4 linked regions of the Homo sapiens genome follow. The protein of the gene in region 1 interacts with the protein of each later gene in a pairwise test. Each region holds a gene or a part of one and is shown in the gene's direction. Other genes may lie near its edges.

Region 1 (4,539 bases):
AACACACAACTCTTTAAAACAAGTGAAGTAATACCCATGTAGAATAAAAGCAAAGAAAAAAGAAACAATTCAGATAATCATCACATAAGAACACTTATATGTTTTATTTTATCTTATTTTATTTATTTTATTTTATTTTGAGACAGAGTCTCCTTGTGTCACCCAGGCTGGAGGGCCATGGTGCGATCTTGGCTCACTGCAACCTCCGCCTCCTGGGTTCAAACGATTCTCGCGCCTCAGCCACCCAAGTATCTGGGATTACAGGCGTGGTGCCACCCAGTTTTTTTTGTAATTTTGGTAGAGACGGGGTTTCACCATGTTGGCCAGGGTGGTCTCGAACTCCTGGCCTCCAGTGATCTGCCCGTCTCAGCCTCCCAAGGTGCTGAGATTACAGGCATGAGCCACTGCACCCAGCCACTTACATGAAACATCTGACTGCATTGCTGAATTCAAAATATCTGAATATGTTATACAGAAAAATGTTTTGGAAATCTAATGAAAATTAATAACGAAATACAATGTTCTACTTACAGTCATTGTTGACTTATCTTAATAATTTGTTTGTTTTGTAATGTGACAAAATAGATCTATATTGTTCATCTTGTCAAAAATATTTATGTGCAGAACTGTATTTTAAAACAAGCAAGTACAAAAGGAAATAAATTAAAGTACACGAATATTTTATTACCTCTCAAAATAGCCTGACTTGAAAAGACCATCACTCCATGGCCAATGGATCTACTTGATCCTGAAATAACCGAGAGTGGGGTGTATCTGTTACTATCAGCAGGTCAACCTTACAGCAACAAGAAGAAAGGCCTTTGACAACCTGATGGTCACTCCTGGGATTTCTATGGCTAACTTAAGTGGCAAGAACTAGCAGGAAACTAGTTGACTTTTTTTGAAGAAAGAAATGACAAAAGTTTCTCAATCAGTACCTTTTAGTCATCATTTCTTGGAAACAACTATACATCATACAGTTGATGCCTTTAAAGACACGACTTTGGGTATGGGCTCAGTGGCTCATGCCTGTAATCCCAGCACTTTGGGAGGCTGAGGCAGGTGGATCACTTTGATGTCAGGACTTCGAGACCAGCCTGGCCAACATGACGAAACCCCGTCTCTACTAAAAATACAAAAATTAGCCGAGAATGGTGGCACGCACCTGTAATCCCAGCTCCTTGGGAGGCTGAGGTGGGAGAATCGCTTGAACCCGAGAGGTGGAGGTTGCAGTGAGCCAAGATCTTGCCACTGCACTCCAGCCTGGGCGACAGAGAGAGACTCCGTCTCCAAAACAAACAAACAAGCAAGCAAAAAACATAAAAGCACAATCCATTGATAAAAAGGGTGCAGCTGGACATGGTGGAAACACACAGGGCATGGGAGGGAGCCTGGGCTCCACCTGCAAGGCGAAGGCCATTCTAGCCAAAGGGGCAGGGGTGGCTGGAAGGAGCTCGGGGGCGAGGTCCTAGGCCCCGTCCACTTGGCTTCCATCCCGAGTCCTTGCATCCCTCCCCAGGAGGAGGCGCTGAAAACTTCTGGGGACAGAGGCCCCAAAGAACCACCACCCACCCCAGTCCACAGCAAATATGGGTGGTCCCTTACGGAAAGAGGGAAGGCGTGTCAGCAGGGGTCGTGGCCCCCAAGGTCCTTCACCCGCATGCGCATGCGCACTTAGCTGACCAATCAGAGAGGAGCGTGGATAGCCAGGGCAGCTGCTCTCGCGAGAACTGAGGACCCATTTTTCTAAGAGAGCGTCGTGGTGCCAGTGCCTGCAGGTTCTGTGAGGAAGCGGCATCAGGGGTCCCTCAGGTGAAGCGCTCGCGGTGGGGAGGCAGGAAGTCGAGCATGCGGCCCTCTCGCAACCAGGGTGTGAAGCGCAGGTGAAGCGCTCGCGGTAGGGAGGCAGGAAGTCGAGCATGCTGCCCTCTCGCAACCAGGGTGTGAAGCGCTGAGCGGCCGGCTGACCTGCACACGGGCAGCCCGAGACCCCTGGCCCCTTCTTGGCTTTGGAGTCCACCATGCACGTGCTAAGAGGCCCCAGGTTTTCAAAGCAGGAAATGGCCCTGGCATCGTTGCCTGGGGCCTGGGTCAGGGCGAGGCCCTGAGGGTGGGCTGGGATGGGCCAGGGCAGGGAGGGAGCTGGAGACACCTGAGTGATCCCCAGGGCCCAGGAGTGTCCCCGGGACTTGTGCATGTGTGCAGTGGGTAGGGGTGGGGCAGGGGAGGGGGGCTTGGGGGAATGGAGGGGGTGGAGAGGGGAGCAAGGGAGGGGTGGTGGCAGAGGGTGGAGGGTCGGGGAAGTGGCAGACAGGCAGGGGCCGGGTGTGGGGCCAGGGATGGGGGCAGGGGAGGGGAGGGGTGTGGGGTTCGTGGGGTGAGGGGATGGGGGAAGGGGAGGAGGAGGGGCGGAGTGTGTGGGGAGGCGACAAGCAGGGGTGTTGTGGGGGACAGTTCGAGTGGGTCCCTCCAGCCCGGCCGCCCGTCAGGACAGGACACTTGGGGTCACGAGGGGTCACCTGGGCATCCAGGCAGGCAAGTGGCAGTGCAGCCCCTGACATTCCCCCAGAGATGGCTGGGGAGGTCCTGTGACACCCGTGGTCCTCCGGGCCACGCAGGTCTCTGGGGCACACAGGGGCAGGGCTGAACTCTGTCCCAGGGACACCGCAAGGATCCTGCAGGGGCCATTCAGGTGTGCGAGGCAGCTGTGAGTTCTGCAGCCAGCCCCAGGGACGGGCTGGACGGGCCACGAAGGATAGGAGGGGACACTGGCATCTTCTCCGACCCCTCCTGCTCCCACAGGATACACGGGGTGGGCCAGCCCCACCCTTTCTTGAATCCGAGATCCCGTTGGCTCTCCTTTCACATATCCTGTTTCCTTAGCTTACTTAGTTTGACTTTGCACTCAACCAGGTTCAGGGATCGCCTCTAACTTCCCAGGACAGCCAACCATGGAGCCCGTGGGCAGGAAGCGCAGCAGGAAGGCTGCCAAAGCTCAGTTGGAAGCTCAAGTTACGGCCGCCCAGGGGGCCACGAAAGAAGGTGCACGCCCAAGGAGATGGTCTGTTTGCTCTCTGCGCGGGGGGCACATGGGCAGCCCGAGACCCCTGGCCCCTTTGTGGCTTTGGAGTCCACCATGCACGTGCTAAGAGGCCCCAGGTTTTCAAAGCAGGAAATGGCCCTGGCATCGTTGCCTGGGGCCTGGGTCAGGGCGAGGCCCTGAGGGTGGGCTGGGATGGGCCAGGGCAGGGAGGGAGCTGGAGACACCTGAGTGATCCCCAGGGCCCGGGATTGTCCCGGGGACTTGTGGATGTGTGCAGTGGGGAGGGGTGGGGCAGGGGAGGGGGGCTTGGGGGAATGGAGGTGGTGGAGAGGGGAGCAAGGGAGGGGTGGTGGCAGAGGGGGGAGGGTCGGGGGAGTGGCAGATAGGCAGGGGCCGGGTGTGGGGCCAGGGATGGGGGCAGGGGAGGGGAGGGGTGTGGGGTTCGTGGGGTGAGGGGATGGGGGAAGGGGAGGAGGAGGGGCGGAGTGTGTGGGGAGGCGACAAGCAGGGGTGTTGTGGGGGACAGTTCGAGTGGGTCCCTCCAGCCCGGCCGCCGGTCAGGACAGGACACCTGGGGTCACGAGGGGTCACCTGGGCATCCAGGCAGGCAAGTGGCAGTGCAGCCCCTGACATTCTCCCAGAGATGGCTGGGGAGGTCCTGTGGCACCCGTGGTCCTCCGGGCCACGCAGGTCTCTGGGGCACACAGGGGCAGGGCTGAGCTCTGTCCCAGGGACACCGCAAGGATCCTGCAGGGGCCATTCAGGTGTGCGAGGCAGCTGTGAGTTCTGCAGCCAGCCCCAGGGAGGGGCTGGACGGGCCAGGAAGGATAGGAGGGGACACTGGCATCTTCTCCATCCCCTCCTGCTCCCACAGGATACACGGGGTGGGCCAGCCCCACCCTTTCTTGAATCCGAGATCCCGTTGGCTCTCCTTTCACATATCCTGTTTCCTTAGCTTACTTAGTTTGACTTTGCACTCAACCAGGTTCAGGGATCGCCTCTAACTTCCCAGGACAGCCAACCATGGAGCCCGTGGGCAGGAAGCGCAGCAGGAAGGCTGCCAAAGCTCAGTTGGAAGCTCAAGTTAGGGCCGCCCCGGCGAAGAAGCACACAGGTAAACACAGCCCAAGGGGCCAGAAAAGAAGGTGCACGCCCAAGAGGACGGTCTGTCTGCTCTTTGCGCGGGAGGCACATGGGCAGCCCGAGACCCCTGGCCCCTTCGTGGCTTTGGAGTCCATTGTGCATGTGCCAAGAGGCCCCAGGTTTTCAAAGCAGGATCGAGGGCCTTAGGCTTCCCGTGGGAGGCTCCCCCTCATAGCAGGGTTACAGATGCTCGCAGAGCAGCTCTTCTCCATGGATGCGGTCCTGACATCCAAGGGGTCTGACTTGTGAGCGTTGTTTACTAGGACTTGAACCGGAAGGGCTTCCAAAAATGCCTCGGTAAAACGGTCCGGAGCCCAGTGATTCCATGCATAGCTCTGCTTTAAAGCTTTAAT
Region 2 (3,755 bases), on another chromosome or scaffold:
CTATATCACAGTGTCTTGCACATAGAAGGTGCTTAGCAATCATTTGATGAATGAATGAATATATGAATGGGACCCATGTTGACTTATAAAAAGCCAGACATCTTGTAAAAAGCAGAACTAAGAATCAGCATACAAAATGCTCTCATAAATGTGATTTTTTTTATCCCTTCCTTTAACACACACCTACCCACTGAAGGGAATATATATCTTCTCATTTTACAAATTTGGAAACAAGCTAAGAGAAGAAGAATGATGTCTTGGTCAAAAGCATAACGCCATGAAGTGGCAGAGCTGAAAAGATAGTGCTTGGGTCTTGGTTTAGCTGGGGGCTGGGTACCCTGATTTATATGATGTTTGTCTTTCTGTAGTGGAAATACTTTGGCCAGATACCAATGTGATGTCACCGAACATAGAATTGGAAGAGATGCACAGCAGCACCCCATTATTTAGTATTTCGTAATAATAACCTTAAGAACATAGACAATAGTAAAATGTAATTTTTAAAAATTAGGTTATTGCCGGGTGCAGTGGCTCACGCCTGTAATCCCAGCACTTTGGGAGGCCGGGGCGGGTGGATCATGGGGTCAGGAGTTCGAGACCAGCCTGACCAACATGGTGAAACCCTGTCTCTACTAAAAATACAAAAATTAGCTGGGCGTGGTGGCACGCACCTGTAATCCCAGCTACTTGGGAGGCTGGGGCAGGAGAATCGCTTGAACCCAGGAGGCGGAGGTTGCAGTGAGCAGAGATCGCGCCACCGCACTCCATCCTGGGCGACAGGGCAAGACTCCGTCTCAAAAAAAAAAAAAAATTAGGAAGTAGGCCAAGTGCAGTGCAGTGGCTCACATCTGTAATCCCAGCACTTTGGGAGGGCAAGGCGGGCAGATCACCTGAGGTCGGGAGTTCGAGACCAGCCTGGCGAAAATGGAGAAACATCGTCTCTACCAAAAATACAAAATTAGCTGGGCGTGGTGGCTTATCCCTATAATCCCAGCTACTCAGGAGGCTGAGGCAGGAGAATCACTTGAACCCGGGAGGCGGAGGTTGCAGTGGGCCAAGGTCATGTCATTGCACTCCAGCCTGGGCAACAAGAGCCAAACTCTGTCTCAAAAAAAAAAAAAAAAATTAGGAAGTAGCCAGGTGTGGTGGCTCACACCTGTAGTCCCAGCCCTTTGGGAGGCTGAGGCAGGAGGAACACTTGAGCTTAGGAGTTTGAGATCATCTTAGGCAACATGGTGAGACTCCTTCTCAAAAAAAAAAAAAGAAGTGATGAATACTTAAGCATCATTGTTTTTAACATTATTTACTTTTTTTTTTTTTTTGAGACAGTCTTGCTCTGTTGCCCAGGCTGGAGTGCAGTGGCACGATCTCGGCTCACTGCAGCCTTCGCCTCCTGGGTTCAAGTGATTCTCCAGCTTAGCCTCCCACATGGCTGGGACTACAGGCGCACGCCGCCACGCCTGGCTAATTTTTTATATTTTAGTAGAGATGGGGTTTCACTGTGTTGCCCAGGCTGGTTGCAAACTCCTGAGCTCAGGCAATCTGCCTGCCTCAGCCTCCCAAAGTGCTGGGATTACAGGCATGAGCCACCACGTCCAGCCAACATCATTTACTTAATTGTAAGTTTATATAATTTGATTTTTGAGAAGAGCTGTGTTTAACAACCAGCTTGAAAAATGCCTCAAAATTTAACAATTGGTTTTCTTGAGCCAGAAAGAACCAGCCCTCGCACCTCAATGCTGCTATCCCTTCTCCCTCCCCTAATTAATCTTGGGTGGTTTACTCTTTTTTTCCTTTAAGGGAAGGTTGTTTGCCACAGTGACATTTGCTCTTTTTCTGCTTCTGTGTTCTTCCTGGGCTTGCCATTACAGGCTTACCACTCTTCTCTCATGGATCCTGATACCAAACTCATCGGAAACATGGCACTGTTGCCTATCAGAAGTCAATTCAAAGGACCTGCCCCCAGAGAGAGTAAGTCTAAACCCATTATTTTCAAATTTTGGTACGAAATGCCTAACAATCTTCTGAAATGATCAAATCAGAAAAATTCTTAGCTCAGTCTTCTCTCTCAAATTGCCCTTGTACTTTGCTTGGTAGATACTGTGGTCTAGACCTTTCAAGATAGTGGTTATATGTTGCATTTAATAGGAAATTGTATTATTTCTTCTGACTTCTCCAGGAAACTCTTTTGAGAAAATGGAGGAAATGTGCTTAATTCTGGACACTGTTTATCAGTTCTTTCAAACAAATCTAATGCTGTTACGTCTAGAATGCCACATGCCCATCCTTTCTGTCATCAACCTGGAAAAGAACAACAACAAATATTTTAACCTCTTCCTCGTCTAAATCTACTTCCTTTATTCATTCTTCAAGATCTTCATTTTTAGCAATACCTCAATCTTAAATCTGAAGTGTACTATGTAACATTACTTACGTCTATTCCCGCTTTTCTGAATTTTATTTCAGAAAGCCGCAATATTTTTCAGACACTGTCTGAGACTCTTCTGATGCTTTCTGAGATGTTCTCCCAACAGTATAATTTGTATTATGTTAGACATGGTTTCCCTGTACCCTGCAAGGGTCTGAACTGAATTCCATTCATGGTTTCCAAGACCATTATTATAATTACCAATTTGGTACTTATCCAGTCCCCATTTCTCTGCCAGACTGTTTGACTTGACCTTTTTTAAACTTAATTTTGTTTTCAACACCATTTGAAAGCTCAGTAAACTTAATGCATATGGTGAGTCACCACAGTCTCTACTTGATTCTGAGGAAAAGGAACAAGGAAGAAGACAGCCTGGGAAAGAAGAAAAATAACATAAAAGAAAATCACAAGGCTGGGTGCGGTGGCTCACACTTGTAATCCCAGCACTTTGGAAGGCCAAGGCAAGTGGATCACTTAAGGTCAGGAGTTCGAGACCAGCCTGGCAAACATGGCGAAACCCCAACTCTACTAAAAATACAAAAATTAGCTAGGCATGGTGGTGGGCACCTGTGATCCCAGCTACTCAGGAGGCTGAGACAGGAGAATCGCTTGAACACAGAGGGTGGAGGTTGCAGTGAGCCAAGATTGCACCACTGCACTCCAGCCTGGGTGACAGAGTGAGACTTCATCTCAAAAAAAAAAAAAAATTTTTTTTCACTGCAAAGGCCAGGCGTGATGGCTCACACCTATAATCCCAGCACTTTGAGAGGTCGAGGTGGGTGGATCACCTGAGTTCAGGAGTTCAAGACCAGCGTAACCAACATGGAGAAACCCCATCTCAACTAAAAATACAAACAATCAGCCGGGCATGGTGGCGCATGCCTGTAATCCCAACTACTTGGGAGACTGAGGCAGGAGAATTGCTTGAACCTGGGAGGTGGAGGTTGCAGTGTGCCGAGATCATGTCATTGCACTCCAGCCTAGGCAACGAGCAAAACTCTGTTTCAAAAGAAAAAAAAAAAAAACCTGAATTGGAATGGAGGCCTGTGCTGTGAGCTAAATAACAGCATTAATCACACTAATTCATTTATATTCAACAAATATCTGTAGAATGCCTTTTATGTGCCAAGTATTCTTCTAATTTCAGAATCCTTTGGCCTTTGCCCCCTCCTGTCATTGCATTTAGAAGAACTAGCTGGTTTTTGGAAACAATATTGAGTCCTCCAAGACAGTTTTCTTTCACAGATAAGAAAACAGATTGCAGCCAGGCATAGTGGCTCACGCCTGTAATCCCAGCACTTTGGGAGGCTGAGGCGGGCAGATTGCC
Region 3 (3,755 bases), on another chromosome or scaffold:
TTTCTACAACATCAAACTAGAAGGCAAAGTCCCAATGCACAAACTTTTTTTGGAAATGTTGGAGGCCAAGGTCTGACTAAAAGCTCCCTGGGCCTTCCCATCCTTCATGTTGAAAAAGGGAAAATAAACCCAAGAGTGATGTCGAAGAAACTTAGAGTTTAGTTAACAACATCAAAAATCAACAGACTGCACTGATAATTTAGCAGCAAGACTATGAAGCAGCTTTCAGATTCCTCCATAGGTTCCTGATGAGTTTCTTTCTACTTTCTCCATCATCTTCTTTCCTCTTTCTTCCCACATTTCTCTTTCTCTTTATTTTTTCTCCTTTTCTTCTTTCACCTCCCTTATTTCTTTGCTTCTTTCATTCCTAGTTCCCATTCTCCTTTATTTTCTTCCCGTCTGCCTGCCTTCTTTCTTTTCTTTACCTACTCTCATTCCTCTCTTTTCTCATCCTTCCCCTTTTTTCTAAATTTGAAATAGCTTTAGTTTAAAAAAAAATCCTCCCTTCCCCCTTTCCTTTCCCTTTCTTTCCTTTTTCCCTTTCCTTTTCCCTTTCCTTTCCTTTCCTCTTGACCTTCTTTCCATCTTTCTTTTTCTTCCTTCTGCTGCTGAACTTTTAAAAGAGGTCTCTAACTGAAGAGAGATGGAAGCCAGCCCTGCCAAAGGATGGAGATCCATAATATGGATGCCAGTGAACTTATTGTGAACCATACTGTCCCCAATGACTAAGGAATCAAAGAGAGAGAACCAACGTTCCTAAAAGTACAGTGCAACATATACAAATTGACTGAGTGCAGTATTAGATTTCATGGGAGCAGCCTCTAATTAGACAACTTAAGCAACGTTGCATCGGCTGCTTCTTATCATTGCTTTTCCATCTAGATCAGTTACAGCCATTTGATTCCTTAATTGTTTTTTCAAGTCTTCCAGGTATTTGTTAGTTTAGCTACTATGTAACTTTTTCAGGGAATAGTTTAAGCTTTATTCATTCATGCAATACTAAAGAGAAATAAGAATACTGCAATTTTGTGCTGGCTTTGAACAATTACGAACAATAATGAAGGACAAATGAATCCTGAAGGAAGATTTTTAAAAATGTTTTGTTTCTTCTTACAAATGGAGATTTTTTTGTACCAGCTTTACCACTTTTCAGCCATTTATTAATATGGGAATTTAACTTACTCAAGCAATAGTTGAAGGGAAGGTGCATATTATCACGGATGCAATTTATGTTGTGTGCCAGTCTGGTCCCAAACATCAATTTCTTAACATGAGCTCCAGTTTACCTAAATGTTCACTGACACAAAGGATGAGATTACACCTACAGTGACTCTGAGTAGTCACATATATAAGCACTGCACATGAGATATAGATCCGTAGAATTGTCAGGAGTGCACCTCTCTACTTGGGAGGTACAATTGCCATATGATTTCTAGCTGCCATGGTGGTTAGGAATGTGATACTGCCTGTTTGCAAAGTCACAGACCTTGCCTCAGAAGGAGCTGTGAGCCAGTATTCATTTAAGAGGCAATAAGGCAAATGCCAGAATTAAAAAAAAAAATCATCAAAGACAGAAAATGCCTGACCAAATTCTAAAACCTAATCCATATAAGTTTATTCATTTAGGAATGTTCGTTTAAATTAATCTGCAGTTTTTACCAAGAGCTAAGCCAATATATGTGCTTTTCAACCAGTATTGTCACAGCATGAAAGTCAAGTCAGGTTCCAGACTGTTAAGAGGTGTAATCTAATGAAGAAATCAATTAGATGCCCCGAAATCTACAGTCGCTGAATAACCAATAAACAGTAACCTCCATCAAATGCTATACCAATGGACCAGTGTTAGTAGCTGCTCCCTGTATTATGTGAACAGTCTTATTCTATGTACACAGATGTAATTAAAATTGTAATCCTAACAAACAAAAGAAATGTAGTTCAGCTTTTCAATGTTTCATGTTTGCTGTGCTTTTCTGAATTTTATGTTGCATTCAAAGACTGTTGTCTTGTTCTTGTGGTGTTTGGATTCTTGTGGTGTGTGCTTTTAGACACAGGGTAGAATTAGAGACAATATTGGATGTACAATTCCTCAGGAGACTACAGTAGTATATTCTATTCCTTACCAGTAATAAGGTTCTTCCTAATAATAATTAAGAGATTGAAACTCCAAACAAGTATTCATTATGAACAGATACACATCAAAATCATAATAATATTTTCAAAACAAGGAATAATTTCTCTAATGGTTTATTATAGAATACCAATGTATAGCTTAGAAATAAAACTTTGAATATTTCAAGAATATAGATAAGTCTAATTTTTAAATGCTGTATATATGGCTTTCACTCAATCATCTCTCAGATGTTGTTATTAACTCGCTCTGTGTTGTTGCAAAACTTTTTGGTGCAGATTCGTTTCCAAAACTATTGCTACTTTGTGTGCTTTAAACAAAATACCTTGGGTTGATGAAACATCAACCCAGTGCTAGGAATACTGTGTATCTATCATTAGCTATATGGGACTATATTGTAGATTGTGGTTTCTCAGTAGAGAAGTGACTGTAGTGTGATTCTAGATAAATCATCATTAGCAATTCATTCAGATGGTCAATAACTTGAAATTTATAGCTGTGATAGGAGTTCAGAAATTGGCACATCCCTTTAAAAATAACAACAGAAAATACAACTCCTGGGAAAAAAGGTGCTGATTCTATAAGATTATTTATATATGTAAGTGTTTAAAAAGATTATTTTCCAGAAAGTTTGTGCAGGGTTTAAGTTGCTACTATTCAACTACACTATATATAAATAAAATATATACAATATATACATTGTTTTCACTGTATCACATTAAAGTACTTGGGCTTCAGAAGTAAGAGCCAACCAACTGAAAACCTGAGATGGAGATATGTTCAAAGAATGAGATACAATTTTTTAGTTTTCAGTTTAAGTAACTCTCAGCATTACAAAAGAGTAAGTATCTCACAAATAGGAAATAAAACTAAAACGTGGATTTAAAAAGAACTGCACGGGCTTTAGGGTAAATGCTCATCTTAAACCTCACTAGAGGGAAGTCTTCTCAAGTTTCAAGCAAGACCATTTACTTAATGTGAAGTTTTGGAAAGTTATAAAGGTGTATGTTTTAGCCATATGATTTTAATTTTAATTTTGCTTCTTTTAGGTTCGTTCTTATTTAAAGCAATATGATTGTGTGACTCCTTGTAGTTACACTTGTGTTTCAATCAGATCAGATTGTTGTATTTATTCCACTATTTTGCATTTAAATGATAACATAAAAGATATAAAAAATTTAAAACTGCTATTTTTCTTATAGAAGAGAAAATGGGTGTTGGTGATTGTATTTTAATTATTTAAGCGTCTCTGTTTACCTGCCTAGGAAAACATTTTATGGCAGTCTTATGTGCAAAGATCGTAAAAGGACAAAAAATTTAAACTGCTTATAATAATCCAGGAGTTGCATTATAGCCAGTAGTAAAAATAATAATAATAATAATAAAACCATGTCTATAGCTGTAGATGGGCTTCACATCTGTAAAGCAATCAATTGTATATTTTTGTGATGTGTACCATACTGTGTGCTCCAGCAAATGTCCATTTGTGTAAATGTATTTATTTTATATTGTATATATTGTTAAATGCAAAAAGGAGATATGATTCTGTAACTCCAATCAGTTCAGATGTGTAACTCAAATTATTATGCCTTTCAGGATGATGGTAGAGCAATATTAAACAAGCTTC
Region 4 (3,755 bases), on another chromosome or scaffold:
TGGCAGCGGGGACGCTGGCAGAGAGGCTTGTACAGATACTGCCCGATGCATCCGGCTCAGGCTTGCCGCCCTGTGGTGCTCCTCCCAAACTCAGGGAGCAGGTATTTCCGTTCACCTGCGCCTTCAAGAACCTGAGCTCAAAGCGCTGCAATGACTGGCCAGGGACTAGCAGCGGCTCAGTGGTGGGTGGGCTGGGACTTGGGGTTCTTGATTAAGACATGGGGTCCTGAGGGGAGGGACCAGGAAGGGTGGCCTTGAGAAGGACATCCCTGCCAGCCTCAGGCAGTGGGCTTCTAGGGGGAGACTAGGGCTGAGGAGCCAGCCAGGTGGCGGCTGAGGGTCACCCAAAGATGGCTGAAGGGGAGAGGGCCCGCTGCATCCCCTTGGGCCAGAGCCCACAGGCCAGGCCCTGAGGATCTTAGGCTGCACCAGGCTTGCCGGACACAGGCTCATTGTCTCTAGGGCTTTCTGTCTTGCTGTAACGTCTCTCCAGCCAGCTGCAGCTCCTGCTGACTTATCCCACCCCAGCGCAGGTCATCCAACGGTGACTTATGGCCCCGGCCTCCTGGCTCGATGAGGGTATGTTGCTTCTGTTTCTACCTCTCTGAGTTCTTTTCCTCGGAGCAAGTGACCCTGATGGGATGGCCATGGGTGTACAAGGATACTTGTGTCATGGGTGGCTTTGCAGTTCTGTGTTCCTAAGTGTGCTGTGCAGTGATTCGTGCTGCCCTGGTTCACAGTGGCACGTTTGTGTGTCTGTGGATCTGTAGGTGTGTCTGTGAGTTTTAAAAAATATCTCACATTCTCTGTATTTGCATAGACAGTTTTGCAGGTGTTCTCACGTAGTTTTGTGTCTTTGAACTTTTGTTTACTTAGCTGTATTTAGATATGATTGTATCTGGGTGTGTTTGTGTGTGGTTTAGCATTTACATCAGTTTCTTATGTCCCTATGATCATATATTTAAATTAAAAACATCTGCTATTAACTGAAATCAGAGGCAGAGAATACCATTGCCTGGTCCTGAGGGATTTCTTAATAGTGACAGAAGACTGGAGCCTGAGGAGCCACCTCTTGGGTCCTCCATTGTTTCATTCACTCATCCGTTCATTCATTCAATACACATTACACACCTTCTGCATATGAGGGACGCGCAGGTGTGGGAGCAAGCCCCCGCTCCCTGGGGCTAACCTGAGTGAGGGGTCTCACAGGGAGAGAGGACTGGGTGAGGACATAGCAGTCAGGTATGGGCTGCAGGAGGGCAGGGAGGCGCTGGGGACCCGGTGGAGTTGAGAAGGATGAGGCTATAGAAAGGGGCAGCATGGCAGGGAGGCATTGGCTGGGCATGGGCTGGGACTGGAGAGGCCAGTTTCTGTGGGGGTCTCCTATGGAAGACCAGCTGAGCTGTGCCCAGCAAGTGAGGACCTGCTGGGACCTCAGGGCTGAGAAGGGCCTGATACTGGGCCTTTGGCTGGGGTTTGGGGAGCTGCCCCCACCCCCAAAAGCCTTAGCGCCTAGTGGCGGATCCTGCTCCCGCTCCACTAGCAGCAGATGATACCTGTGGCATGGTCTGCTTCTGACTGCCCGACCTGGGGCGCTGAGGCTGTGAGAGCTGTGCTGGGCTGGTGGGAGGTTCCAGGGGCGGCGATGGGGAGGACCTTGCCTCTTTCTGGCCTGTGGCCTTTCTCCTCCCCCAGCTGCTGTCTGGCCGCCCCACCCCCAAGTCTCTGCCACAACCAAAGCTCCTTTGTTGCCTCCCCCTGCCCCGGGCCTCTCCACCTGCTGCTAGCTCAATCCCCTCTTTGTGTGGTTGGTCTTCAGTTGTCATGGCAGCTGGGCCCAGGCTGAGGCCTGCCCACTGTGAGGCTCTTAACTGAACTGCAGCCTGACCCGGTGCGCGGAGGGCCGGGCCAGGGCCAGGCGTGGGAAGGGGGCCCCTGTGTGTCCTGCTCCCCTCAGAGCCCGAGGGGCAGCAGAGAGGAAAGGTGGTCCGGTAGGGGCCCGGGGGCCCTTGTGCGATAGACAAAGCGGCCTTCCAAGACTTGGTGTGGGCACTGGTGGGAGATGGCGCATCTGGCCCTTGATGCCTGTCTTCCAGCCGGGGCGCTTTGCTGGGCAGCCTGCTCACCTGGCTCCTGGGTGTCTCCAGGTGGCTGAGGACATGTCAGGATGGTAGGTTAGGAGGGGCCCGCCATGCACAGAGCAGAGTGAAAGGCAGAATAGGAGAGAAGCTTAGGGTGGGGACGTGTGTGTCTGGCCAGCCTGGAACATGACACATGGAGGGCTTTCCTGGATTTTGTCTGTAGGACACCTGCTGTGCCATTTCCCAGACATAGCCCACCTGAGCACACAGGTAGAGGCGGGTCCCCAAAGACTTGGCCTCCCCTCATTCCTGTCCTCTGTGTTTCCCCCTTTGAATTTCTCACTTCTTCCTCTTGGGTCCTCTTCCTTCTGTCTCCATTTCTGTTCTTACGTAAGCCACAGGCTGCTTCCCCTCGAGCCCTGGTATGGCCCGAGACAGAGGCACCGAGGCTTGAGGGAGGAGCTGCTCTGGGAGGTCCCGGACAGTGGAAGGCCTGCTACTACCTGGAGTGGCTGTTAGGTCCTAATACCTCTTGGGAGGCAGGGTGGGTGAAGTAGGACTGTCTTTGATTTGCCTTGGGGGTCTCGCTCTGTGGAGACCCAGGCCCATCCTTCTGTCCTCCTGAATTTGTGGCCTGGGCTCTGCCCTCCTCGGTCTGAGTTCCCCTTACCAAGGTGGCTTCTCTGTCCACTAGCCCCTCTGCGCCTCTTCAGGTGGATGTTAAGTCCAGTTGGTGAGAGGTTTCCCAAGATGTGGCATGCAGAAGCTCACAGAGTGGCCCCAAGGGAGGAGGGTGGCGAGGGAGGGAGGAGCCCCCAGCACCCATCAGAGCCCCACCAGGGGCTCCTCCCGCCCCCTTCCCCACTGCTCGCCTTTTCTCTGCACCACAAGCAGGTTCTGTAAGAAACCATGGTAGGCATGCGTACAGGCCCCTGTTGGGGAAATAGAATTGAAAACAAAATCTCTTGCCAACCCAGAAAAGCTCTTTGCAAAAGTAGAAGAGAAAAACAGCTTTTAAAAGATTGAATGTGCATGAAACCAGAATGTGGTGCGCACCATGGACAATCCCCCGAGCAACTGCAAAGACGGGAGCTCTGAGCCTGCAATACCCCAAGCGACTGCAAAGACGGGAGCTCTGAGCCTGCAATACCCCGAGTGACTGCAAAGACGGGAGCTCTGAGCCTGCAATACCCCGAATGACTGCAAAGACGGGAGCTCTGAGCCTGCAATCCCTGAGTAACTGCAAAGACGGAAGCTCTCAGCCTGCATGTAGCCGGCAGGTGCAGCCCGTTACAGACATGTTCTCAGGATAAACAGCAACCAGCCCTCCAGCAAGAGGACTGGACATTACCATTTGTCACACGCAGGCAGGTCGTCCTAAATTCACCTCATAATTGGAGTGACCATCTGTGTTAGCTAATTGCCTTTACCCACAGGAAAAATAAAGTTCTTATATTTTTATGACAGGAGATAGTTTTGTGATTTGGAGCCAGGCACCTGCTGAAATTAGGCTCCTACCCTCCCATGGAGACTGGGAGGCAGGGGTGATGTCTTCCTTGATACTTAAATTTCAAAGAAATGGCCCCCAGGACCTTGGGAAAGACAGTCCTGGGTTGTAATGTTGGCAGAAGGCTTATTTAGCTTTTTTTTGAGACAGAGTCTCACTCTGTCACA

What was found.
Region 2: the proteins of FAM9A (region 1) and ARPC3 interact in binary tests that used the Homo sapiens proteins (3 or more experiments, as listed by UniProt).
Region 3: the proteins of FAM9A (region 1) and ESRRG interact in binary tests that used the Homo sapiens proteins (3 or more experiments, as listed by UniProt).
Region 4: the proteins of FAM9A (region 1) and ZNF775 interact in binary tests that used the Homo sapiens proteins (3 or more experiments, as listed by UniProt).

What each region holds. Positions count from the first base shown.
Region 1 is NC_000023.11:8,798,584-8,803,122, reverse strand, and holds the start of FAM9A (protein FAM9A), read left to right. Parts: upstream 1-1,739; 5' UTR 1,740-1,812; exon of another isoform or gene 1,813-1,883; intron 1,884-2,913; 5' UTR 2,914-2,951; coding exon 2,952-3,042; intron 3,043-4,028; coding exon 4,029-4,157; intron 4,158-4,539.
Region 2 is NC_000012.12:110,443,668-110,447,422, reverse strand, and holds part of ARPC3 (actin-related protein 2/3 complex subunit 3), read left to right. Parts: intron 1-1,871; coding exon 1,872-1,971; intron 1,972-3,755. UniProt on the Homo sapiens protein: Component of the Arp2/3 complex, a multiprotein complex that mediates actin polymerization upon stimulation by nucleation-promoting factor (NPF).
Region 3 is NC_000001.11:216,503,260-216,507,014, reverse strand, and holds part of ESRRG (estrogen-related receptor gamma), read left to right. Parts: coding exon 1-76; 3' UTR 77-3,755. UniProt on the Homo sapiens protein: Orphan receptor that acts as a transcription activator in the absence of bound ligand. Binds specifically to an estrogen response element and activates reporter genes controlled by estrogen response elements.
Region 4 is NC_000007.14:150,382,245-150,385,999, forward strand, and holds part of ZNF775 (zinc finger protein 775), read left to right. Parts: exon of another isoform or gene 1-579; intron 580-1,556; exon of another isoform or gene 1,557-1,747; intron 1,748-3,755. UniProt on the Homo sapiens protein: May be involved in transcriptional regulation.